Linked DNA regions of Homo sapiens: all the other regions are linked to region 1. The links come from fine-mapping of genetic effects on gene expression. A gene starts in region 1. Each other region holds a variant in brackets. All regions are shown on one strand. Distances are between the middles of the regions. Region 1 holds the start of FAM167A-AS1 (FAM167A antisense RNA 1). Region 2 overlaps FAM167A (family with sequence similarity 167 member A). Region 3 overlaps FAM167A-AS1 (FAM167A antisense RNA 1).

The links. PIP is the estimated chance that this variant, and not a neighbour inherited with it, causes the effect.
Region 2: its variant is fine-mapped to the expression of FAM167A-AS1 in anterior cingulate cortex (GTEx, PIP above 0.99). The same link has a PIP of 0.9 or more in lung.
Region 3: its variant is fine-mapped to the expression of FAM167A-AS1 in pancreas (GTEx, PIP above 0.99).

Annotation. Positions count from the first base shown.
Region 1 is chr8:11,364,105-11,372,285 of GRCh38, reverse strand. It overlaps FAM167A-AS1 (FAM167A antisense RNA 1), which reads right to left and starts at 3,884. Exons shown (of 7, transcript NR_026814.1): 1 at 3,834-3,884. It also overlaps the pseudogene TDH.
Region 2 is chr8:11,431,259-11,439,439 of GRCh38, reverse strand. The region is part of intron 2 of FAM167A (family with sequence similarity 167 member A); the gene reads left to right. It overlaps FAM167A-AS1 (FAM167A antisense RNA 1), which reads right to left. Exons shown (of 7, transcript NR_026814.1): 4 at 5,305-5,520; 5 at 4,338-4,610; 6 at 1,230-1,400; 7 at 783-1,004. Among named protein-coding and RNA genes, the nearest start is that of FAM167A, 31 kb to the left of the region's middle. RefSeq lists a silencer at 1,020-1,223 and enhancers at 2,499-3,018, 3,019-3,538. The variant G/A (reference allele first, on the strand shown) is at 4,407.
Region 3 is chr8:11,385,985-11,394,165 of GRCh38, reverse strand. The region is part of intron 2 of FAM167A-AS1 (FAM167A antisense RNA 1); the gene reads right to left. It also overlaps the pseudogene RNU6-1084P. Among named protein-coding and RNA genes, the nearest start is that of FAM167A-AS1, 22 kb to the right of the region's middle. The variant C/T (reference allele first, on the strand shown) is at 4,377.

The sequences.
Region 1 (8,181 bases):
TTGGTAGATGAGCACTGTATCTTTAACAAAATATTCTAGAAACAACAAGTCTTTCTTCCTTTTATAACTCAGAAGACGGTGGTGTGATCAAGAGAGTGGGGAGCCCTGCCCCGCCTACCTACTCACGGTCCCTTCCAGCCCTCTGCAGCAGCCTCCGGTGCTGCAGCTCCACTAATGGGACACGAAAGCATCGCCTAACATTTTATGGAACAAAAAGGATGGATCGCATCCTAGGAACCACACAGGACCTAACCCCCCATGGGACAATCTGCTCTTCCCAACCGTTGTCTCCTGGCAGCTCATATCCCATCTCCTCTTTTCTCCCATGAGGCCTGGCACTTTGCTGCCAACCTTAGCAACTCCTTTAGTGCCCACCACATCTGCTAACGCCCCCCTCCCCAGCCATGCGAAAGGAAGGTGTGAGCCCTGCAGTGACCATCTACTGCTGAGCTTTCCTGGGATCGTTTCAGCCCTCGAGGTAGCAGTCTGAGCAGGGCGGGGACTGCCCTGGCACACTAGTGGTTGCAAATGCAACCACATCTCACCCTCTGCTAAGACTCACATTTTCTTCCAGATTTTTACGTATTTGAAATCAGGATTATCCTACAACTTCTTTTGTACAGGTTGTGATTGTAATAGTGCTAGCATTGCCTATTGGTGACATAGGCACCTTCCAAACACAGCACTGAACCCTGCGCAGTGGGTGTCAGAGGCCAGGAGAAACATTCAGCCATCATTGTAACTCCTAGGAACCAAAGAGTTTAAGGTTTTGGGCAAACCAAATAGAGTTAGCACATTCCTAAAGCAGGTGTCAAAAGTAGGCGAGATTGGCGTAACTATAAAGCTGGTTTACAGTGCCAGTGACTTTTAGGTTTTATGAATTCTTTTAAGGAGTGCTCTGACATAAAACTCATACTGGCACAGAGAACAACACTGGGTGGAAAAACCAGAGACACCAACCACTGAGTCAAAAAGTGATTCAGAAAAGCAAAACCCGAAGTTTCAGGAAAACAAACAAACATACATTTCTAGATCCGTTTCTACAGATGCGCAAGTGATAACATCTGCATCTAGCAAAGTCTCAAAGAGCTCCTCAATGGGATACAAAGTAAAAAGTCCAAACAACAAGAAAGCGTTCTGTTTCTTTTTTCTTTTGTTTTTTTCAGAGATAGGGTCTGGCTCTGTTGCCCAGGGTGGAGTGCAATGCTCTGATCATAGTCACTTCAGCCTCTGCCTCCTGGGCTGAAGTTATCCTCCCACCTCAGCCTCCCAACTAGCTGGGACTACAGGCTCACACCATGACACCCAGCCAATTTTTGTAGAGACAGGGTCTCCCTGTGTTGCCCAGGCTGGTCTTGAACTCCTGGACTCAAGCGATCCTCCTCCCTCAGCCTCTCAAAGTGCTGGGATTACAGGCATCAGCCACTGCACTTGGCCATTGTGTCTATTTAAATGCAAGTTTTCTTCCTTTCTTAGAACATAAAAATAATAGTGTGTATTACAAATAACAGCATATTTTAATAACATATTTTTAATGATACATTTTCTAGGTGCCTTGAATATTAAAAAATTGGGAAAGTACAACCTTGGAGGCAGCTACTTGTTCTGGTTCATTCTTTCATACTACAACTTAAATTACAAATTATATTTAAACTTCTTACAGCAATGTAGGTACAGAAGAATTGTACTTACAGCGTAAAGAAAGAACTGGGCAAAATAATTTTTAAATTTTTGACCTTTTAACAAAAGAGAAAAGCTTTTCTTAAGGACTTCAGACAAATGGATCAACAGACAAGGTATCACATATACTCCCAAAATAAGGCAGAGTTATCTCCCGAAACTATCCCCTTAGGGATGCTCACCTTATATTTGAAACATTACACTCTTTCAGGATATACTAAATGCTGTCGGTAACCTGAAAAGAATACAAGTTATTGTTCTGTGGAAACATTATTAGCCTCAAACAACCTTAAGCAATGCTAATATTGTGGCTGGTAGGATAAGTTGTAAAGGAGGCACATTAACAGTCACGGTCTCTAGGATTATAAAGCTACAGTTACAAGTATTTGGTGTCACTGGAAAGAAGCCTGTTAAAAATCGAAAGCAATGCTCTGTGGATTCTGAAAAGCAGCTGCCCTAGTGCTACCTACACACAGGCATACTTGTGGCTTGGGATAAATGTCCACCAACAGCATCATACATAGACCCCGAAACTGCTGCATCCCAAACAACTTAGAAAGAAAAAAGATCATCTGCTCTTAACCTATTAGGGGATGCCAAAGGGGGCACCAAGATCAAATACGAAGTCGGAGTGACATGCCTGAAATGCGAATGTGAAGAGGGAAAGCCCACATGCTGGTTAATAGATTAACAAATCTGAAACACCTGCAACTAATAGTACAGGTGTCTATTTTATCCTCTCATCTACAATCCTAAACTTTATATATGTAAGTTGGCTAAAAAAAAGTTTTCTGGGATCTTCACATTGGAAGGTAAGGGGTGGCCTGTTTAGCTACCTTATAGACAAACATACTAAAGCTATAAAAACAGTGCCATGAAATAATTTTTTTTAAAGTGACTACCCTAAAAAAAAATCATTAAAAAACAAGATTCCTTTCTCACCGGTGATTTTTGGAAGCAATTCACTGATTTAGAGGCAGTTATCATCCGGTTATGTGAGATCTAGGATTTATTCACTCACGGCTCTTGTATTAGAATGTTAAGATTCTCCAGCAAAAAATGAAGTTTATATTCTTCAAACCTTTTAGAAAAATAAAACTTTCAACTGATCCTGTTGCCTCAGCCTCCCAAAAGTGCTGGGATTACAAGTATGAGTCATTGCACCCAGCCACAAAAATAAAACTTTTCAACAAATGTAAACCATACTGAGGTCCATGAATATGTGCCAAGAGGAAGGTGTTGATGGTCGAGAATTTCATCACAAATTAATCCAACTCGTTCCGAAGATAAATTTGACCACATAAAATGAAGAGGCAAGTAGGTGTTTACGCCCTGTGACCCAGTAATTGTACTTCTAGGTTTCAGCAATTAAATAGAATGACATCATTATGATACTCCATTCAACGAGTTATGCAGCTATCTTTAAATGGCAAATGTTAAAACTACATGTAAGTTCTTTGTAACGCATAGAGGACTGGAGAATATTTTAAAACAGCTACCATGTGACATGGCAAAAATTGAAAGTGAGTCTTTTCCAAAACTTTTGACAATATTGTCTTAGCACTACTTTTATAGTAAAAGAAAAGAAAAAGGTTTCACCTTCCACTCCTAGATTGTATAAGCACAGGAGAAAATAAAAGGTATACACTAGTTTTTTTGTGTGTTGTTGTTTGAGATGGTCTCGCTCTGTGGCTCAGGCTGGAGTATGGTGGCGCAAGCATAGCTCATTGCAGCCTCAAACTCCTGGCTACAAGTGATCCCTCAGCTTCAGCCACGTGAGTAGCAGCTACAGGTGTGCATCACCACATCTGGCTTAAATTATTTTTGTAGAGATGAGAGTCTTGCTATGTTGTCCAGGCTGGTCTTGAACTCCTGGCTTTAAGCAATCCTCCTGCCTCAGCCTCCTAAAGTACTGATTACAGGTGTGAGCCACTGCACTGGGTCCCACACTACACTGCTAACATGTTATTGATTGGGTTTGGAGGGGAAGACAACTTTATTATATATCTTTTAAATTGTCTGAACTCTTAATAAACATTTTTTTAAAATGACAGAATTTAAAGCATTTTCTGAACACCCTTACCATAAAATACAATCACAAATTGGTGATTTGGCCTATGTGAATTAAAAAATACTAAATATCTCCCACCTACCATAGTAAGTGTCCAAAGCACTGCAGTAGCTTTCACTAATCCAGTCTGTTCTGGACTCCAGGCCATCTATCTTGCTGGCAGACTTCGGGATCGCTGTTTGTGTAGCAACACAAGGCACATCCCAGCAACGCCACACACAAACATGTGAGCAGAAAACTAATAACCACCGGTAGCCTGTGTAAAACATCAGAACAAAGCCAATCTTTGTATTCTTTCTTTTTTATTTATAAATAAACTATTTTTGTGGTTAAACCCACTTTTCCTTCAAATAGCTTTTTGGGTTATTTCCAAATTAATCATAAAAAACCCTTTCTCCCAACAGAACGGAAAGCATTTTACAGGAAAACATTGATGGGCTCCGGGATCCCAAGATGTGCACCAGATACTGAGTGTTCAGACAGAAGGGACAACTCTAATTCTAGTCTTGGAGTACAAAGATGTCAGTGAATAAGAATCATCCAAAGAAGCTGAAGCATTCATTATTTTTTCACTCTTATTTGAGATCTCCTGGAGGTGTGTTTACAGATTGGGAAAGATTCAAGGAACCTGTTTGGAACAAACCCCTCCAAATGATCCGAATTAAAGGTCATTCTAGGAGCCTGGTAGAAATGCTGGAAGGTTAGGGTCTAGGAGACAAAGGTCACTCGAGTTGCTGCTTCTTATCTTATGAAAGGGAAGAATTGCTTGTTCCTTTAAGATAACTGAGAATAAATTAATCAAACTTAAGAACTGTTTTTTAAACTATAAACAGTAAGCAATCATTTTAAAACTCAATTATCTACCCAAATGTTCACAGCAGCATTATTCATAATAGCTTAAAAAGTGCAAAAAACCTAAATGTCCCTCAATGGATGAATGGATAGAGAAAATAAGAGGATTACTCATACAATGGAATATTACTTAGCAATAAAAAATGAAGTAGTGATACATGCTAAAACATGGATGAACCTTGAAAATGGACTGCTTAATTAAAGAAGCCACTAAAAGACAACCACATTCCACTTACATAAAATGCTCAGAACAGACAAACCCAGGGACAGAAGAAGTACATTAGTGGTTGCCGAGGGTGGGAAGGGCTTATATAATATGATTTCTTTGTGGGGTGATGAAATGGCCTAAAATTAGATTATAGTGATGGTTGCAAAACTTTTTAATACATTGAAAACCACAGAACTATAAATGAGTGAATTTTATGGTATGTAAACTATATCTCAAACTTTCAAAAAAAGAATTCATTACTAACTTTCTGATTTTAAAAAATAAAATCTTCCTGCCTCTCAAGAGCAGCCCAAAAGAAAAATAACAAAAAAATAAAATCTACAAACATAAACCTTATTAAGTGGAGGAAAAAGCTACAGTAATGTAACTGTTAAACAATTCAATTACCTAAAAGTTCTCCAGTTAATAGTCAAATAGATTTTAAATCCAGTTATGCCTTCAAAAAAATCCACGCTTTGACCTAACAGTTCAAAACTCCAAATGCATAACATTTTGTTATTAAGCATGCAACATAAATAAACGCCTTTTAATCCTTGATAGCTGTTATCAAATATATCCATGATTAATCTGTGGAACTGGAAGTTTCACTTCCTAGTGATTTTACATGCAGTACATTCCGAGGTCGCTGGAAAAAAGTTAACCTGTACGTGTCTATACAGTATTGCACCAGAAATATTTTTTTAAATGACCGGATTGAAAGCATTTTCTGAACACACTCATTCCCTTACCATAAAATACAATCAGAAATTGATTTGGCCTAACTTCAACTTAAAAAGTTAACCTGTATGTATCTATACGGTAATTGCATCAGAGGGTTTAGAGTAGCCCTTCTGAAAGCTCAACCCAGGAATATCTTAAAAAAAAAAGATGCAACAAGAAAGTGCTCTTTAGAAAACTGCATTGGTCTAAACTGGTCTGACTAGTGGGCCTCAGCTGGATTCAAATAACCAGTGGCACCTGGCACTTAATGAGTGAATCTAAAGGGATGTAGCCCAGAAACCTGTGTATTAGACAATCTCCCTAGATGCTGATGTTGCCAGGTCAGGGAATTATGTTCCTGGGAATTACATTTAGCTCACTAATAGGAGGGCAATCAAAATAAGAGCAGGGCTACCCTTCGCTGGTTACATCATCTTTGAATTCTTAATTTCCCACAGATCTAGCATCTTACAGAAAAACCAGAAATTATAATTTTTGAAGCAGTGTCAAAATATCTTGAATGTGATAGACATGGGATGAATACACCAAACATGTTTTACTTTCGCTGGGATAGTAAAGAATACTTATAAATGAGGAGTACCTCTTTGAAAGTCCTTAAAATGTAATCTTTGGTCTTTAGTCAAGAGAATAATCGAGTCTTAAGAGGAATATTTAAATTGAATTTAATTAAACACAAATGTCACATACTCCCAGCTTCCCAGAAATAGTCACTTCATCCTAATTAAGGAAATGGAAACTAATGATGACTTAAGCCTTATTCTGTGGAATGTGTTTAGACAAGTTCAGGCAAACAGCAAAAACTGAAAAGTCCCACCACCATACCTACAACATTCTGAAAATGCTTAAATGTTAACTCCATTCTTTGTCTAGCAGTTCAATATGAGCTGCCAAAATTTAGTCCAATGAGTCAGTTCCAAATAATGTAGGCTCCTTGGAGTCTATAACCTTGGAGTTGTGACAGTTCTCCCTTGACAGTGGACCAGGACACAGGAGCTCCTCTTCCAGATTCTTTCAGTTGGCTTGGGCAACTCTGCTTTCAGAACCATGGAAGTTCAACATGGCAGTCACCAACTCTGGAAGATCAAAGTCGTGTTTCCACCCCCAGTCCTTCCGAGCATTGCTGTCATCAAAGTTCATCGGCCAACCATCCGCTAGGAAAAGATACGCAAGACTAGCTTAAGTTATTCAGGTTGTGGATTTGCAAAAAGGTCTTGACCATTGTATATAAAGGTCTACCGTACAAGGTACAAAACAGGAAATTCCTTCGAGTAAAGCAGAACCGCCATTATGCACAGTCACCCTCCTAGGGCCGAAGACTATTAACCCATCTTTCGTCAGGCACTGTGAATTTTCACACATTATCAAAATCTCACACAACTTCATAAGAAGTTTTATACTCAAAGAGGTGCTTCCATCCACAAATTGGCAAAGTTACAGTATTTGAAAACCTGGGGCTGTTTTCATACTACCTCTGTTGCTTCTATTTTTCCTTGCTTTATGTTTAAACTGTAAAAATGATGAAAGGCTAACAAGCTGTTTATTTGGAATGGAATGATTTCACCCACTTTAGATATCATTCCCCAAAATCAAAGCATCTGCTAGCTTGGGCTCAACAATTTCTTGGGCTAGGCTCCTTCTCCAAAAGGTGTCTGGACCCTTGGGAAGGATCTATGCTCTCTTCAACCTTCCAAGGTTTACATTCTCCAGGGACTCACAGTAAAGGCCTTTGCCACCGGGTACGAACCTATGGCCTGGCGAACGGCATCCACGTTGTATGTGATCTGGAATTCCGGCACGTGCTTGAGGACCTCCTGGGCCAGCTCCTCGGGTGTGAAGCTCATGGCGCTGACATTGTAGGTCCTCATGGAAAGGGACTCAGCTGGGGCCTCCATGACCTCCAGGGTGGCTCTGAGGCAGTCGTCAATGTACATCATGGGCAGTCTCGTGCAGGCTTCCAGGTTGCACTCGAATTTGCCATGCTTTGTGGCATCATGGAAAATCTGGACTGCATAGTCTGAAAGGGAATCCCGTATGTAGGTTATAACAAAACAATGAATGAGCCTCTTGGATCAAGGCAGCAGTTCTCAAATGTTCTAGTCTCAGAGTCTTTTTATAACAGATTCTTAAAAATTAAGAAGTCCAGTCAAGCTCAGTAACTCAGGCCTGTAGTCCTAGCACTTTGGGAGGCCGAGGCAGGCAGATCACCTGAGATCAGGAGTTCAAGACCAGCCTGTCCAACACAGTGAAACCCCAGCTCTACTAAAAATACAAAAATTAGCCAGGCGTGATGGCACACATCTGTAATCCCAGCTACTTGGGAGGCTGAAGCATGAGAATCGCTCAAACCCAGGAGAGATGGAGACTGCAGTGAGCTGAGATCACGCCACCGCACTCCAGCCTGGGTGACAGAGCAAGACTCCATCTCAAAAAAAAGAATTGAGAACTCCCAAAGAGATCTGACTAATGTGGGTTATATCAATATTTACTGAAACAGAGTTAACTGAGAATTGTTTAGAATATTACCTTTTTAAACGACAATAAGCCTATCACATATTAATATGTATAACATTTTATAGGAAAAAGGGTATATTTTCTAAACAAACAAAATTTACTGAGAAGGATGGTCTGC
Region 2 (8,181 bases), 67 kb before region 1:
TTGCCTGTGCTGCCTGCTTGGTATGCACAAGACTCTGGTATGTCAGGGGACAGCCCTCTGAGGCAGGTGTCATCCATGTGTGCTAAGCAGTGTGGCCAAATGGCAGGTCATACTCACCAGTGTCTTCCGACGGGAAGTGGGCGATACAGCCAGGTTGATACCCCCCATCTAGGGAACCTTCCATATACACTATCCTGCAAGAAGGCTTGGAAGTATTTGCTATTCCCATCTTACAGAGGAGAAGACTGAGGCTCAGAAAGGTTGTAGAACTGAGGGACAGAAAGTTTAAAGCGACTTGGCCAAGGTCATATGCAAGGATGTGGCTAAGCCACGACACAGACACACATCACTTGGTTCTGGATCCAGATCTCTTTGTTCTGGGCACATCAGATGTCCAAGTCAAGGGGCCCTGAGCTGCCAGAAAGCCCGTGCTTAAACCCTTCAGAACAGGGTACTTGTAAAAGGTCACACAGGAGGTTGCTAGCACTGCCTCATAACAACCATTTCCAGGGACAGGGCAGCTGTACTGTTTCAGGATGAAGGTAGCAAGTTGCTCGGAGCCATCAGCGAGGCACTGGCTGAGCGGGGATTTGGTTCACAAGAGAATTCCTCGTCCCAGCCTCTGTTCTCCCAAGGCTAAGTCTTCTCTGCATAGCCCGGTGCTTTCAGCCTGTCTGGCACCAGCCCTGCAGGAGGAAGATTCCTGTTCTATTCATCTGGGCAGATACGGCCTCGTGGGGGTTACCAAAGAATGTATAAACAAAAGAACCAGGAAAGGAAATACACCAAAACTTGATGATCTTTATTTCTGAGTGGTAATATTATTCTTTTGACTTTTTTATAGTTTTCGAAGTTTCCAAAATAGGAATATATCATGTATAATCAAGGGGAAAGACATTATTGAAAGACCAAAGAAGCAAAAGTGCTAGCACCAGGCTCTTCTCTCCCTTGCCAATGTAATCGGTATGCATTCTTCACCTTGTACTTCTGTAGCATAGAATCTCCTAGAATAAAATAAAAGTAAGGCCTTCAATCTCCCAACATTCAAATAAAAGTAAGGCCTTCAATCTCCCAACATTCCTGTTTGATGTGAGAGCTGATGAGTTGGGGCTGCTGGCCAGGGAGCTGCAGCTGACCCCAACCGGGAGGTCCTGCCTGCTCTCCCTTTCCTGGCTGTCTTGCAGGGTCAAGGAGAAGGGAGTTGGAGGATCCCCACAGCAGCACCTCACCGGAATAGCAGCTCATGGCGATTCCGGGGCTGAGAGAGGCAGGCGGAAGTCTTTTCATCCAGCCCCATGTCCATTCAGCACTACCGGCCTCCACTGGCCGCCTGGCTTCCGTGCTGGGGTGGGGTGAGGCCAAGGTGGATGGGTCAGGGCTCCTGTCTTTGTGAAGTTTCCCTTCGAAGGAGAAGACAGGCACATAAACACAGTGGCATGGTGTGACAAAAGTTATAATAGAGATGCAGTAAGTTGAGTTCTGAGATGATCTGGTGAGCTGAGGGCCGTGCTGAGTGGATGATGGTGGATGATGAAATTAACCAAAGGGAAATACGCAAATTCCTCACTTCCTTGGCAGCCAGATCCATGCCTGTCCACGTAATTGCATTAAGTTTCTCCTTATTTCCCATTCACGTTTCTTCTATAATAATAAACTCAATTCCTCTGATGGGCACCCTCCCCATTATAACAGCACACGACGGTATGGGGTAGTGACTACTGGGTGAGGCACCTAGAGCGTTTGCTAAAAATGCAGATCCCTCCCAGCCCTCCATGGAAATTCAGATTCCATAAACCTGGGGAGGTGTTGGGGTTTTAACAGGTATCTGCAAGTGATTCTAATACAACTGGCTCATTAACTGGTCAAGAGTGCACTGGAAAAAGCATAATATGTGTAATTAGATTCAACTTCAAGTCAGATTCTACCATATCCTAGTTGTGTGCCTTTAGGTAAACCAATTAACCAAGACTTCTTGGTTTTGTGATTGTAAAATGATAAATCCCTACTTGGCAGCGCGTTGAGCAGGGAGGAGGGGAATGAGTGGCATTAGGACACTGAACAGTTGCTGGGCCCCTGGGATGGTTGGGTACTGTATTACGCATGTTTATACACACGCCTCACATCATTCAGTAGCCACAGCAATCTTTCCGGGTAGGCACGATTACTATCCCCATTTCACAGATGAGAAAACTGAGGTTAAAAAACTTGCCCAAGATCAATCAGCAGAGCAGGAATTTGAACTCAGATCTGCCCGACCTCAAAGCCCTGCAGTGGGTCTGGATTCACCCACCATGCTATAGGAAACTGTGAGGCCCCTGGCAGCTGAAGCCCAAAGCATGTTCTTCCCAAGAAGACAGGTACCCGAGTAATGGAGTATGAAGTGACTTTGGAGAACAAAACAGCCTCAAACTTGCCTGGAGGCTGGGGCAGAAAATAGATTTGCCTCACTTCCCTTTGGAGGCGCAGGCAGGAATCTATAGCAACTGCAGGTGCCTGGGAGCCCTATTTAATCCCACAGGTCCCCACTCCAGCAGCTCATGTCCTGTCCTCAGCTCTCCCTCCCTTGAGGTTAGCAGCCTACTGACACCTTCCTAGCTGGTTCTCGCTCAGCATCAGATGTGAAGCTCCCGCTACATCTGTTTCCAAAGCAGGGGATAGAGAACCCAAGAAAAGCCCAGAAATCCCAACAGTTGTGCCCCAGGGGTCTTCTGAGGGCTCTCAGGTGACCCCAGGGCACTTCGGCACTCCATTTCCATAGGACAGTTATCACCTTGGCTAAAGCTTCCAGTTTCATGTAATGCAAGCCCCAATTCCTGCCTGCAGATGGGGGAGGCCTTCCTGCAGGTGGAATTGAGAAGGCCGTGCAGGGGAGCTCCTGTCGGAGCAGGGAGACAGCCCCTGCTAGGGGGTGTCTTCTCTCCCTCCGCCGACTGGCCCAGAGACCCCCAGCAGCATGGCCGAGCTCACAGAGGTGAGGGAGCCAGCCCTTCCTGCAGGTCTTGCCGGGGGCCCAGCAAGAACAGCCGTACCTGGGCCATGCTCGCAGCCTGGCAGGGGCAGCAGTCCTGGGACTGGCTGCTTGGCCTCACGAGGGCCCCCACTTGCTCTCCAGGGGAGTGGCAGGGAAGTTGAGGAAGGCCTTGGCCCCTAGTGGCGGGCCTGGCCCTCCTCATGTGCAAGCTAAGGACACCCCTGAGTGGGAGGGTCCCCACCGCATCTCCAGTCTGAAGTGTATTGGCATTACCAGCCCTTTGACGTTGGCAACACTTGGTGATAGAGACAATAACACAGCCCTACCCAACCCCGGACCATGCTTGGTGACGTGTGACAGGCAGTACAGTTGTCAGCGATAAGGGAGCGCTCAGTAAAGGTGGGTGAAGCTTGGGCTGGGGACCCGCCCTGAGCCAGGCTGTGAGGAGCAAAAAAGGCTCTGGCAGGGACCCGGCACCCAGGAGCTGGGGCAAGCGCCACATGGGAAGTAAAAACGTAACTGAATGGTTTGCTCTGTGGTTCTGTGTATGAAGACGGGATATGGTGGAACTAGTAATTCCGGAACTCGATGTCCTGTACAAAGTGTGTGGATATGGGCTTATTTAATTCTCATAAATGATCAGTAGTGTGTGCCCATTTAATTACGGTCAATTATTATCAGTAAGTGGGTACTATTATGCTCATGTAGCAGATGAGGAAATTGAAGCTTAGGTGTGGGGTGACTTGCCCAGGGTGGCGTCACCAGCAAGTTGAAGAGAAGGACTTTGAACCAGGGGCTGCTCCTCTGTCCTTTCTACTGGCTGCCTCTCCACAGGCCTGGGGGCAGTGGGAGATCCCAGAGGGTGGCGGTCAGCCCGGGTAGCAGAGGGAGGAGTGAGGTCTCCAGGACTGTCCCAGCCGTGGAGACAGGTACTGGGTAATGTAGTGTGGAAAATCAAGACTTGGCTCTGGGGAAATTTAACTAACGGATTGATTCATTGATTCATTCATCTAACAAATGGCTTTTGAGCACCAGAGCATGCCCTAGGCACTGTGGTGGCCCCAGTCTCTGTCTCTCCTCTGGTGTTTTGTCATCTAGACACATGATAAAAAATGAAACCAATGCCCAACACGTGGGTGCCATGGTGGAGGCCGCATGGAGGGGCAGTGGTAGCAGGCGCCCATGGGGCTGTCATCCCCTCTGCAGGGAGAGGGACAAAGGCTGAGCTGGTCCTGAAGGGTGACAGGTGGAGAAGGGACCACAGGGGAGGGGACAGAACCTCAGTGTGGCTGCCCTGTGGGGGCAAGGGCATCAGAGTGGGAGAGGAGGCTGGAGAGGTCAAGGGAACAGGAGGGTCCCGTGATACCTTTGAAAGATTTGAAGAAGCAGGGAGACCTGCCCATCAGCCTCTTGAGTGGAGACAGATTGAGTGAGG[G/A]GGGGAGGCAGGCAGGGAGGAGGCCCAGATGCTGGGAGCTGAGGTGCAGAGGACCCAAATGCAGGGGTGGGTGCCAGTGATGCTGTCCTCTGGGCCTGTCCTCACCCAGCCAGCAGCAGTCACATCTCTCCCACTCTCTCTCCGGCACAGAATGTCTTCCTTGGGTGTACAGCTTCCAGAACCTCCTCAGTTCCAAGATGCAATCTGATGGGAGGGGAGGAAGGTGATCAGCATCCTCTCTCTGTGTAGGGCACATGCCACCTGTCCAGAGTCATCATGTCATCAGAGGCTGCACTAGGACTGGAACCCAGAGCCCCTAGTGGCAGATCTAGGGGCTCTTCGGAATGCATCACTCTGTCCTTCCCAAAGGCCAGCCTCACCCCTGAAGGTGTGTAGTTTGGCCCACACCTTCCAAGTTTGAAAAATTAAAGGCCTGATCACAGGGGTAGAGCTTAACTCTTCCTGTGGAGTCCTCGGCAGGGCCCGAAGAGCCTCCTGCTCTATGCCTGGCTCTGGGGCTGTCGTCTCTCCCTCCCAGCAAACTCACCATTCCCCAGGGGGCACAGGAGCCCCTGGCAGGGAGGATCCCTGGAGGCCTGGCTCAGATGGACTCATCTTGCTGTCTCCTTCCTGCATGCAAGTCAGCCCAGTGACAGGAGCCATTGCACCTGCCCCCCTCCCATCCACAGTCCCAGGCCAGGGGCCTGAAAGAGAACCCAGGACCAGCCAGGCTCAGAGTCCCCGCCCTGCAGTCTCTGGGCTGCAGAGCGTGAGTGCGGCCTCGGCTCGCCAGGAGAGTCAGCTTCAGCTCCCTCCCGCTGGGCTGCAGCCTCCCCGAATAGAGACCTCTGGGAAAGAAACTCCAGCCTTCCTCTGGAAATCAATTCACAAGACCAACCTGGTTCCTAGGGGTGTTTGCGTTTCTTTCTTCACATTTCCCCGGAACCTCCAGTTGCCCTTCAGCAGCGTGTTTGAAGGGCACTCCTGCTTTCTTTCCTGCCAGCGTTAATCTGGCTCTTTCTCAGGGACCAAACCCAAGATCATGTAATACAATTTTACCCAGGCTTCTAAGTGGATTCTCCTGCACAACACTGACGAAAATAATAAGGCAGACCTGCAGGTGAAGTTAAATAAGATAAGGAAAGAGATTACACAAATTGTTTCCTGGGTTCAAGAACTGTGAGTCTCATTCCCAAATCGTCGGACAGTGGAACATGTTCTGGGCCTGCACACACAGCTGGCAAAACAGCCTGGATTTTACACGCACCCTCTTTTCAGCATGCATCAGAGACTAATTGTAGCTATTAGGCTGGGATAGGAGAGATAAGAGCCTGACTTTAAGGGACCAGACAAAATGCCCTTCACCACCTTGGCATTCTGTCTGCCTGCCCAGTTCTGAGCTGATTACCACGCTCTCCAGGACACGCACTCTTTCGCCTCTGGTTGGCCCCTGTGCACTGGGATTTCTCTCAAGCCAGCTTTAAAGATGCATCCAGAAATCTCTGCCCCAAACATGTTTTCAGATTTGCTGCCATCACAGCCCTTATTTCACCAAACTAAAAGAACAGAGGGTTTCGTAAGCCAAAGTGCACACAGCCACATTCTTCAGGAATGGAAGCATTAGACGATAGAAAAAAGACAAACTATTAATAGGGTTTCGGGTAAGACTTTTGTTGGAAAGGGGAGGATTTGTCTGGTGGTCCGTGCATTGCCTTTATTTTAGGAAGCAGAAACCATGGTAGGTTAAAGGTAACACCTTCATAGAGTTGCTCCTTGTGCTTCCAATGGTCGGACAATTACATGTTCTTTTTTATTTTTTATTTTTTTTTATCATACTTTAAGTTCTGGATTACATGTGCAGAATGTGCAGATTTGTTACATAGGTATACACATGCCATGGTGGTTTGCTGCACCCAACAACCCGTCACCTACATTAGGTATTTCTCCTAATGTTATCCCTCCCTACCCCCCAACAGGCCCGGGTATGTGATGTTCCCCTCCCTGTGTCCACGTGTTATCATTGTTCAACTCCTACTTATGAGTAAGAACATGCCGTGTTTGGTTTTCTGTTTCTGTGTTGGTTTGCTGAGAATGATGGTTTCCAGCTTCCATCCATGTCCCTGCAAAGGACATGAACTCATCCTTTTTTATGGCTGCATAGTATTCCATGGTGTATCTGTGCCACATTTTCTTAATCCAGTCTATCATTGATTGACATTTGGGTTGGTTCTAAGTCTTTGCTATTGTGAATAGTGCCACAATGAACATACGTGTGCATGTGTCTTTATCATAGAATGATTTATAATCCTTTCAGTATATGCCCAGTAATGGGATTGCTGGGTCAAATGGTATTTCCTGTTCTACATCCTTGAGGAATCGCCATACTGTCTTCCACAATGGTTGAACTAATTTTCACTCCCAACAGTGTAAAAGCATTCCTATTTCTGCACATCCTCTCCAGCATGTTATTTCCTGACTTTTTAATGATCACCATCCTAACTGGTGTGAGATGGTATCTCCTTGTGATTTTGATTTGCATTTCTCTAATGACCAGTGATGATGAGTGTTTTTTATTTGTCTGTTGGCTACATAAATGTCTTCTTTTGAGAAGTGTCTGTTCATATCCTTTGCCCATTTCTTGATGGGGTTGTTCTTTTCTTGTAAATTTGTTTAAGTTCTTTGTAGATTCTGGATATTAGCCCTTTGTCAGATGGATAGATTGCAAAAATTTTCTCCCATTCTGTAGGTTGCCTGTTCACTCTGATGATAGTACATGTCCTTTTTTAAATTTTTAATTCCTAAAATCTTTGGGCCGTTTTAGACCCATAGACATCAGTCCGTGGGATCAGAGAAAGTATTGGAGCAGATCTCATTGGCAACTAAGAGTATTTGCTTCCCTTGAATGTGAAGAAATCACTCAGTGTTTTAGACCAAGCAAGTGAACACAGATCAGCCAGGGGATGTTGAGTAAGGATGCAAATTCCACAAAAATGCTGCCTTTCCCAAATGCACATCCTATGTTAGACTAGCCTTTGCCAGGGACAGCATGAAACCCACACTGAGAGTTGAGTCACCCCGGCCAGCCTCTCGGGCCTTTGGCAAAGAACAAAATCCTTTTTTTTTTTTTTTTTTTTTTTTTTGCCAATTGGTCCAGTACCCTCCTTCTGTGGCCCCCATCTCCAGTAACCCCCCAGAGAGGCCCTTCTACCTCCCAGACTACTCTTCAGGGTCTCATCAGCTTCCAGTGTCACTCAGGCTAGAGACAACATCACTGAGACCACCCTCCAACTGTCCAGGCTGGGCCCCCATTCCCCAGCACCTGCGGCCACGCTTGCTGCAGGCAGGCTGACCGGCCATCTCTATTTGCCCAGGACTAAGGAGGTCCCCTGGATGCAGTATTCTCAGTGCTAGAACCAGGTAGGTCCTGGGCAAACTGGATTGAACTGATTGCTCTAAATTTGCAGACTCTGCTGTTGTTGTTTAAATGTCAGTAAAATATGTATAATATAAAATGTACCATTTTATATGTACAGTTCACTAAATATATTCACATTGCTGTGCAGCCGTCACCACCATCCATCTCGAGAACTTCATCCTCCCAAATGGAAACTCTGTGCTCACTAAACGCTAACTCCCCATCCCCTCTCCCCAGCCCTTGGCACCACTGTCCTGCTTTCCATCACTATGAATTGGACTACGCTAGGAACCTCTTCTAAGTGGAATCCTACGGTATTTGGCCTTTAGTGTCTGGCTAATTCACTTAGCATAATGTCCT
Region 3 (8,181 bases), 22 kb before region 1:
AGAAAGCACAGCAACTTATGTATGCGTGGTCCTCACGCCTGCTGCTATATGGACTACTCAGAAACGCCCCTGGAACACCTGATGCAAACTGTAAAGTGGGGAAACCTGTCAAACTGCCACGGCCTGCTCCCACCCCAGCTGAAGATGCTTTCAGCCAAAACCCAGAAATCTTCTCACCTGGCTGCTTTCTGAGCTTAAAAACCGAGTTTCTAGTTTATTCTAATTACTAACATTGGTTTTTCTTTTGTTCTCATAGAAATGCCTCTCGTGAAATACTCGCGCCATATGGATGTCTAACTTTGGTGGCAGCCCACCTGTAACACTGCTGCCCGAAATAAGATGCAACTGTTGACAGTTTAGCTAGACTGACTGATGCTTGGGACTCAGAGACAGGTTCGGTGGTGTAGGAGACAATCCACCGACCCAACTTCTAGATTGTTAAACTTGTCATGGAGCGGAAATACAAATCTAGTGTTTGATTTGCTCAGATATGCACTTTTAAAGCTCTGAAAAGATGCATGAGAAACTAGAATAAAGTTTACCTAGGGAGGTGTGGGAACAGGGCAGATGGAGGCCAAGGGTGAAAGTGATATTGGTCACATATCCTTTATTAGAAGTTCTAATTCTCTGTAAACAGGTCTCAGAAATTCCCAGCTGCTTATGGAAAAGCAGAAATGTCTCGTTCCAAAGGCTGTATAATGGCCTTGTGAACTTCTTGGAATGATAACTCTTCTGGCTGGCTTTACCTTGACCTGTCCTTGACCAGTGACTTGTTTTCTGTCTTATCTCACTTGGAACTTGGCACAAGTCCTCAGGCCACCCAGTATAGCAGTGGACTTGAGGGCTGTGAGCTAGCGTAGCTGGGAGCCTTCTCTCTGGGAGTAATTCCGTCTTCCCCTCGGCTCCCATCGCCTTAAAGGACACTCCTCAGTGACCCAGCACTAGCAAGTCCCCAGACCTGCCTGCCAAGGTCCTCTTTGTCTAATCGGAGGAATCAAGGGCGCCCTCTCCCAAGCTTTAGCTGAACGACGGACTCTCCTGACACTGTCAGGGAGAAGTGAGGGGAAGGCATGGTGAGGAGGGACTCTTGGGGAGCAGAGCAGGCTTCCTCTTCACCTCAGAGTACCTGCTCTGTGTCTCTCCTCCCACGTTCCCTGCCCAGCAGGGTGACCTCAATCCCCGAGTCCATTCTCTCCCTGTCCACCGTCCAGGCTGGCCCTCCAGCCCTGCCGCCCACCCCTGTGGCCAAGCCTCCCCCTTAGCACCTGCAGAAACAGCGCTAGTGCTGTCAGGCTCCAACACGCCTGGGTTTCATTCTCGCTCTACTGCCCACTAGCTGTGTGGCCCTGGGGGAGCCATGTGGCCCACCTGCATCCTGGTGTCCTCATATATAAAATAGGAAAAAGCATGCCCACCTCACAGGACAGGTGCAAAGCTTAAAGTCAATGGTGCGCCTGTGCTGCCTCCTGCAAGATTTGTAGATGCTTCTGCGTGCTGGCAAGGTTCTGCTTCTTAAGCTAGTTAGGGGCTACACAGGACTTTGCCTTACAACTATTTGTGAAACTGTCCATTTTTGTTTTATGCACTTTCTATATGTATGTTTCATTATACCATTTCTTTAAAAAACACTTATAAAAAAGCAAATCTGGTGCTCGCTTTGGCAGCACATATACTAAAATTGGCACGATACAGAGAAGATTAGCATGGCACCTGCACAAGGATGACATGTAAATTCATGAAGTGTTTCTTTCTTTCTTATTTTTTTTTTAAAGCAAACCTGTAGAAGAAAATGTTAGATGCTGAAAAACATTTAGTTATTCAGGCTGGGGACGGTGGCTCATGCCTGTAATCCCAGTACTCTAAGAGGCCAATGCAGGTGGATCACCTGAGGTCAGGAGTTCGAGACCAGCCTGGCCAACATGGTGAAACCGCCTCTCTACTAAAAATACAAAAATTAGCCAGGTGCGGTGGCACATGCCTATAATCCCAGCTACTTGGGAGGCTGAGGTAGGAGAATCGCTTGAATCCGGGAGGTGGAGGTTGCAGTGAGACAAGATTGCACCACTGCACTCCAGCCTGGGCAACAGATTGAAACTCCATCTCAAACAAACAAACAACAACAACAAAAACCCACATTTAGTTATTCAGGGGAAATTATTCTTCCCCTGATAAGGATAGCGTTCCCTACTTTAACACCATCTCAGTTCTCTCCTTTCTGAAGAATCTCCCTGATTCTCTGTTATTTCAAATAACTGTCCTTTCCCAGCCAAGCTCCTAAGATGGCTATTCTAAAACCGCCACCTCCCCTTTCACTCCCCTTTCCCTTCTGTGAGCTGTGGCTGTCAGGCTGTGCCGCAGCTGAGAATGCACCAATGGCTTCCAGCAGCAAACCCATCTCCCTTACGCTTCTGAGACCCGGACCATTGCTCCCTGCCATCCTTCTCCCACTGCAGGGAGCTCTGCCTTCCAACCTGCATCAGTCGTATCCCAGTGCACGAGGGTGCCCTGGGTACAATTCCAGGGTCAGGTACTGTAAATGACAGGGGATAGTATCACCTGGACTTGCATCAGAGGTAGCTGAAGTTTCTGAAAACACCCATTCCTCAGCCTCACTCCAGACGACTTGTCAGGAAGGAGTTCCAGAAGGAGGACGGTCACCCCCAGCGCCTCCCATGGGCCAGGCACTGCCCATGCTTTGGACACTTTAGTCCTTCCCCAGTTCTAAAGAGTGGGTGCTATAATTGTCCTCATTTTGCAAAGGAGGAAACTGAGGCTCAGAGAAGCTGAGAAACATGGAGTGGGTCCTGTGGGTGGGAGTGGTGGGTCAGAATTTGAAACCAGGACTGTGCGGCTCCCCTGCCCACACTTTGGCCGTGCTTTGCTAACCTAGTATCTAGAGCAGCAGCGTTTCTCAAACTTGTCTGCACACATGCATTGCCCGGGGGTTCTCATTCTTTCTGACCCAGCAGGTCTGGGTGGGGTCTGGGAGGCTGCTTTTCTAACAAGCTCCTGGGTAAGCTGATGCAAGAGGGGAGACAGAATTGGAATAAATGTGACCCACCCCATCACCAGGCTTTCCCTGCTTTACGGTAGGTCAGCTAAGGTTGAGGAAATAGATGGGCCTCTCACCACCATCCTCGCCAGAGCCAGCCGCAGCCTGGAGGCCCCTCACCCGGAGGGGCTGCCTCCTTCCTGCCAGTATAGATCAGACACAAGGCTCAGCTTCTGCCCAGACTGCACAAGAGCTTAAGGCTCTGAAAACATCACTAAAGGTGGGAGGAGATGGCAGGGAGCAGCTCCATCTCAGGGTTAGGGCATCGGGCATCTGACCAGCTTCTCTCAGCTCTGCAGCCTTCCCAGAAGTGCACACTCTGGACATGCGGTCCCCCTGGGAGGTGGAGTCAAGTCCCTGCTCCAGAAGTTTCCCTACCTGGGAGCAGCCTCCAGGCCCCTCTGCCTTTGCCCAGCCTCTGGCTTTCTGGGAAAAAATTTTGTTCATCACATTGCACGTTCCTCAGAGAAAAAGTATTGGCAGCCCTTTGCAAAAGTTTCTGTGTTGTTCTTCTTTTCAAATGTAAATTCTGTCCTTATGGGCCTGAGAAAGAGACGAAGCACCATAGATACTGGTCACTTCCAGGCCTTTTCCAACCAAGAGTCCTTCTCCTGAGGATGTGGAGGGGGCTCTTCTTTGAAGCTCCTTTTGGGGCACAGCTTCCCAGTTAAGCCTGTTGTCAGTGTCTCCACCTGTTTCACCGTGTGGCACACACAGCACATGACACTCTGCGTGCCACATGCCGCGATGCAGAAGGCCGCCGCCCCTGAGGCTGTGAGCGCACCTGGGGTCCCCTGGGGCCGAGGACCTCCGTACCTCACACACTCATTCCGTGTTCACAGCTCTGCAGTCGAGAAGTTCTGGATGGAGACTCTCACCCTCCCCTCCAGGACACTCACTGGCCACACATTCTGCCAGAAGGACAGAGGGCATTAGTAGAAGCCATCAGAATAGCCTGGTGAGACTGAGAAGGCAAGTGTCACTGAGGGGAGCCCAGCAACATTAGGGCTTTGAGGTGACCTGGAGATGGGGCTGAATTCTGAGCTGAGTCCTCGGAGCACAAGCCCGCCCTGTGTCTCCGAGAGGGTGCCCTACCTTCATCTCTCTCTCTCTCCATCCTCCTCCCACCCATCCCTGCTTCTCTCTCAGCCAGAATTGTTCATCACATTGACCCCTCCCTTGTTCCCCCACCTGAGCCCCAGGAGTATGTTCTCTGTGTGGGTACAGCCTGCTGTGAGCTGCAGCAGCACAGCAATGGGCAGAAGTTCCTGCCTCTGAGGCCCTGGCAGCCCGTACTTCAAAATCTGCCCCACTTGAACCAGTG[C/T]CTGTGAATGCCAGGGGGTGAACACTTGCTCGCTTGTTCTGCTCACAAGCAGTTTATGGGCAGGGTTGTCAGGCAAAGCAGCAGACCACTTGGGGTCCAGGGTCCTCTGCTTTCTGACCAGAGCTGAGGACCTGCTTGTCCCTGCTCCCTGGGATACTGCCGGTCGGGAGCTGAGTCACATCCATCGCACCTGCCCTCATCCAGTCTGAACAGGTGCCACCCAAGCTGACCTTTTCCAAGAATAATCAGCGTGGCCTCCCTCTCTCTCTTCTGAAACGGGTTTTACATAGAATGAGAAGCGGGGCCGTCTTTAGGTCTCTGAGTTTCCTGGGTGTGATTTTGCTGTCAATCACTTCCAGGATAACTTGCCCATCTGGCCTGATGGGCCTTCCAGAATGCATTCCACCACTTCTAGTCCTGCGGCTCACCTTTCTAGTCGTACCCACATACACAAGTGGCTTCTTTCTCCTGGTAGTGTGTGGCAGGAAACCTTGCAGCTCTCCCTAACGTGACATTTCCCTTTAAGCTCTGCTCACACAGGACTGAAGACCTCCGTGGTGTTGGCACCACATAGAATACCCGAACCTGCGATGCTCAGCTGGTCTCCATCTCTTACCCAGCAGTTCAGCCCACCCTGTCACAATCCAAGGATGTTTGCCAGACACAGGTCCAAAGCCCCCTCCGCAGGTGCTGAGTCTGCATTCTCGCCCATGCCTATGGTTCTAGAGGCACAGGGGCCCTGCAACGCTCCCTACCAGTGATGAATAAGAAATGTCTGGGGGACTAAGACATCAGACTGAAGAAGGGTGAGGAACATTGAGGAACGGTGGATGTTCGCTACAGATCTCAGGGAGCCTGAGGCAGGAGGGAGATTATGCCCTTGGATCCGCTGCCCTCAATAACCACTGCAGGGCCTTGAGAGGAGAGAAGATAAGGAGAACAAGCCAAAGGGGCCCGTCCCGGCGAAGGCTACACAACTGCCAGCCCGGTGATAACATGGCATTCGACCCCCTTCCTGAGAATGGCTGCCAGCTTCCCGGGCCCATGGCTGTGTTGACTCTGGAAAGAGGGAGGATGCTATCAGCTCACAAGGTCTGAGCCTCAAGACCCGAGCAGAGCGGCCGGCCGATAAGCTAAGTGGGGCCTGTAACTGCTCCAGCACAGGTGCACGACCCACCCTGTTTTCCTCTGGCACGAGCACTGCTGGCTTGTCAAAGACTGCCCTGCTCTCAGGCCTGCTGCCCTGGGCAGGTGGTGGGAGTGAGATGGCAAGCTTGTACCCTCACACTAGAGCTGTCGCCCTTTAGGTGGACATCCTTTAGCATCGTGGTTCTTTATCCTTTGGGGTGGAAGGGGACCCTTTGAGAATCTGATGAAAAGACAGCACCCTCTCCTCTAAAAAAAAAAAAATGTAACATCTAGTGTGCAGTTGGGCGTTTGGATTTTAAAAGTTGGCAAAAGGCCTTTGATTCCCTGGAGGAAGAGGAGTGGGAATTGGGAGAAATGTTACCTGAGGTTCGACACTGAGGAGGAGAGAAAGGCAGGGTGCATGATCTCTCTAAGAGTGCCCAGGGAATGAAGAAAGGACACCACGTCCCTGAACAATAGACTCAGGCATTAGGAGAGCATTTTCAGGTGGTCCTGGCTTGATCACCCAGCTGGGGAAGATCACGGTGGGGGTTCAGTAAGATTATTCACAAGAAGCTTTGGGAATAACATGGAAGTATCTTCTTACCTCTTTTCTCTGTGGGTTTTAGTAAATAATTTTAAAGCACCATGATGGAATCTGTGCATGGCCGTCAGGATGCCGGACAACTTTCAAAGACGGCTGCTGTGACAGACACTGAGGTGGCATTTGTTGGGAGTGCATTTCTCCAGCTTCTCTAGGTATTCTGATATCTTGATTCCCACAGACTTAAGTCCAAGTCAGCTATTCCCAAGCAGTGGAGGTAGATAGGGTATCAGTACCTTGTCAAGAATAAAAGCCCTTGGTGAGCTAATAACTGGATTGACTCATTTCCCCAGGCAGGTAGCTTCATGAATGAGAGCCCAGCAACCTGTCGCCAAGGTTGGTTGGGCAGGAAAAAATGCATCCAGTCTCTGCAGCATCTGTCCTGGGAAGGGCCAGCCCTCTTGAGCTCTGAGTGTGTTTTTTTCATGTTGGTTATATCAGGTTCCTTGAGAGGCAAAAGTGAAAGGCAACTCTTGGGTCCTGGCTTCCTTGAGGAGGCTGGGGTGCCACTCCGTCCATCCAGACTTCAAATGGACCCACACTGATGTACATCTGCTCTGTTTCACTGGCACTGTTTCATTTCTGTCTCACAACAATCCTCTAAAACCAATACGACCCTACACAATTTTCATAGAAGATGAAATGCTTGTTTTCCTGGCATCTGGTTCAGTAATGAAAATGTGTTTTGAATGGAGGTGAGCAAACAGGGCTATCAGGAGAGCATCCAGTCCAATGGGCGGCAGGTGTGCAAACAATGACAACAGGTCTTCTTTCTTGGGAAGAAAGGTGCATGTGGATCTGGGGCCTCTGAGCAGGGGTGGCAAGATGGGATTTGCTATGTAAGAGATACGCTTGGACAAGTTCCCATGAGAAACATGGGGAGCTCCTCCTTTGTGAACGGAAGCCTCTCCCAAAACGTTTGATAATTACTGCTTTAGCAAAAGAAATGCTTTTTCCTTGAAAAACAAAAGCTCAGGCACAGTTGGGTTTCTCTCTCACTATTGCTCCTTGCATAGCTCCAACTACCATATTAATTTTTTTAACTCATACAGATTTATCTTAACCATATTAATTTTCATTACTAGCCAAAATGTCTTCTACTTCACAGAGAAAAATGGTGGGTAGAGAAGTGAGAACTGTTTATCTTAGACAAAGATTTCAGCAGAATAGCAAAGTTCATAACCAACCTTCTATAGCCACACACATTCCTTTTACGCCTTCTGAAAGTTCAAAAATGAGCAGTCATGCATCTGATCCCAAGATACAGCCTCTCTAAAGCACAACAAATAAAAAGCAATTGCATATAAACCTAAAATTATGTTGCATAATCAATGTTTTGTCATTTGATAGTATTTAGAGGTCATCTAACTATACAGTGATTATCCATTAACTCAACTTAATATCAGCCCCAAATTCTAAGTCATCTAAACACCTAGAAAAGTATCTTCCAGCTACAAAATATAATTGCTGTTGAAAGAAAAAGTTTGTCACCATAACGAATGAATTTAGTTGAGCACAAATTTCCTGGTTTAATGATCCTCAACATTATGTAACATTAAGTAATCGCTTATTTGATGAGTAAGCTTGTACGAGTTTAGGAAAGACAAACCAAATAAAATGCATGCTTGTGTTATATACATCGATAAATAGGAGAAGTAACGTGGCAATTTTTTAATCAAAATTATTATTAATAATATTTTGAGACAGAGTCTTGCTCTGTTACACAGGCTGGAGTGCAGTGGCACGACCTCAGCTCACTGCAACCTCCGCCTCCTGGGTTCAAGTGATTCTCCTGCCTCAGCCTCCCGAGTAACTGGGATTACAGGTGCGCACCACCACGCCTGGCTAATTTTTGTATTTGTAATAGATACAGGGTTTCACCATGTTGGCCAGGCTGGTCTCCAACTCCTGACCTCAGATGATCCACCCGCCTTGGCCTCCCAAAGTGCTGGGATTACAGGCGTTAGCCCCCACACAGCCTGAATCAAAATTATTAAACTAGTCTAGTTTGCCAAAGATTAATCTTAATTATGTGAACTTGGTTTCTGAATTGGTATTAGAAATTCAATTTTC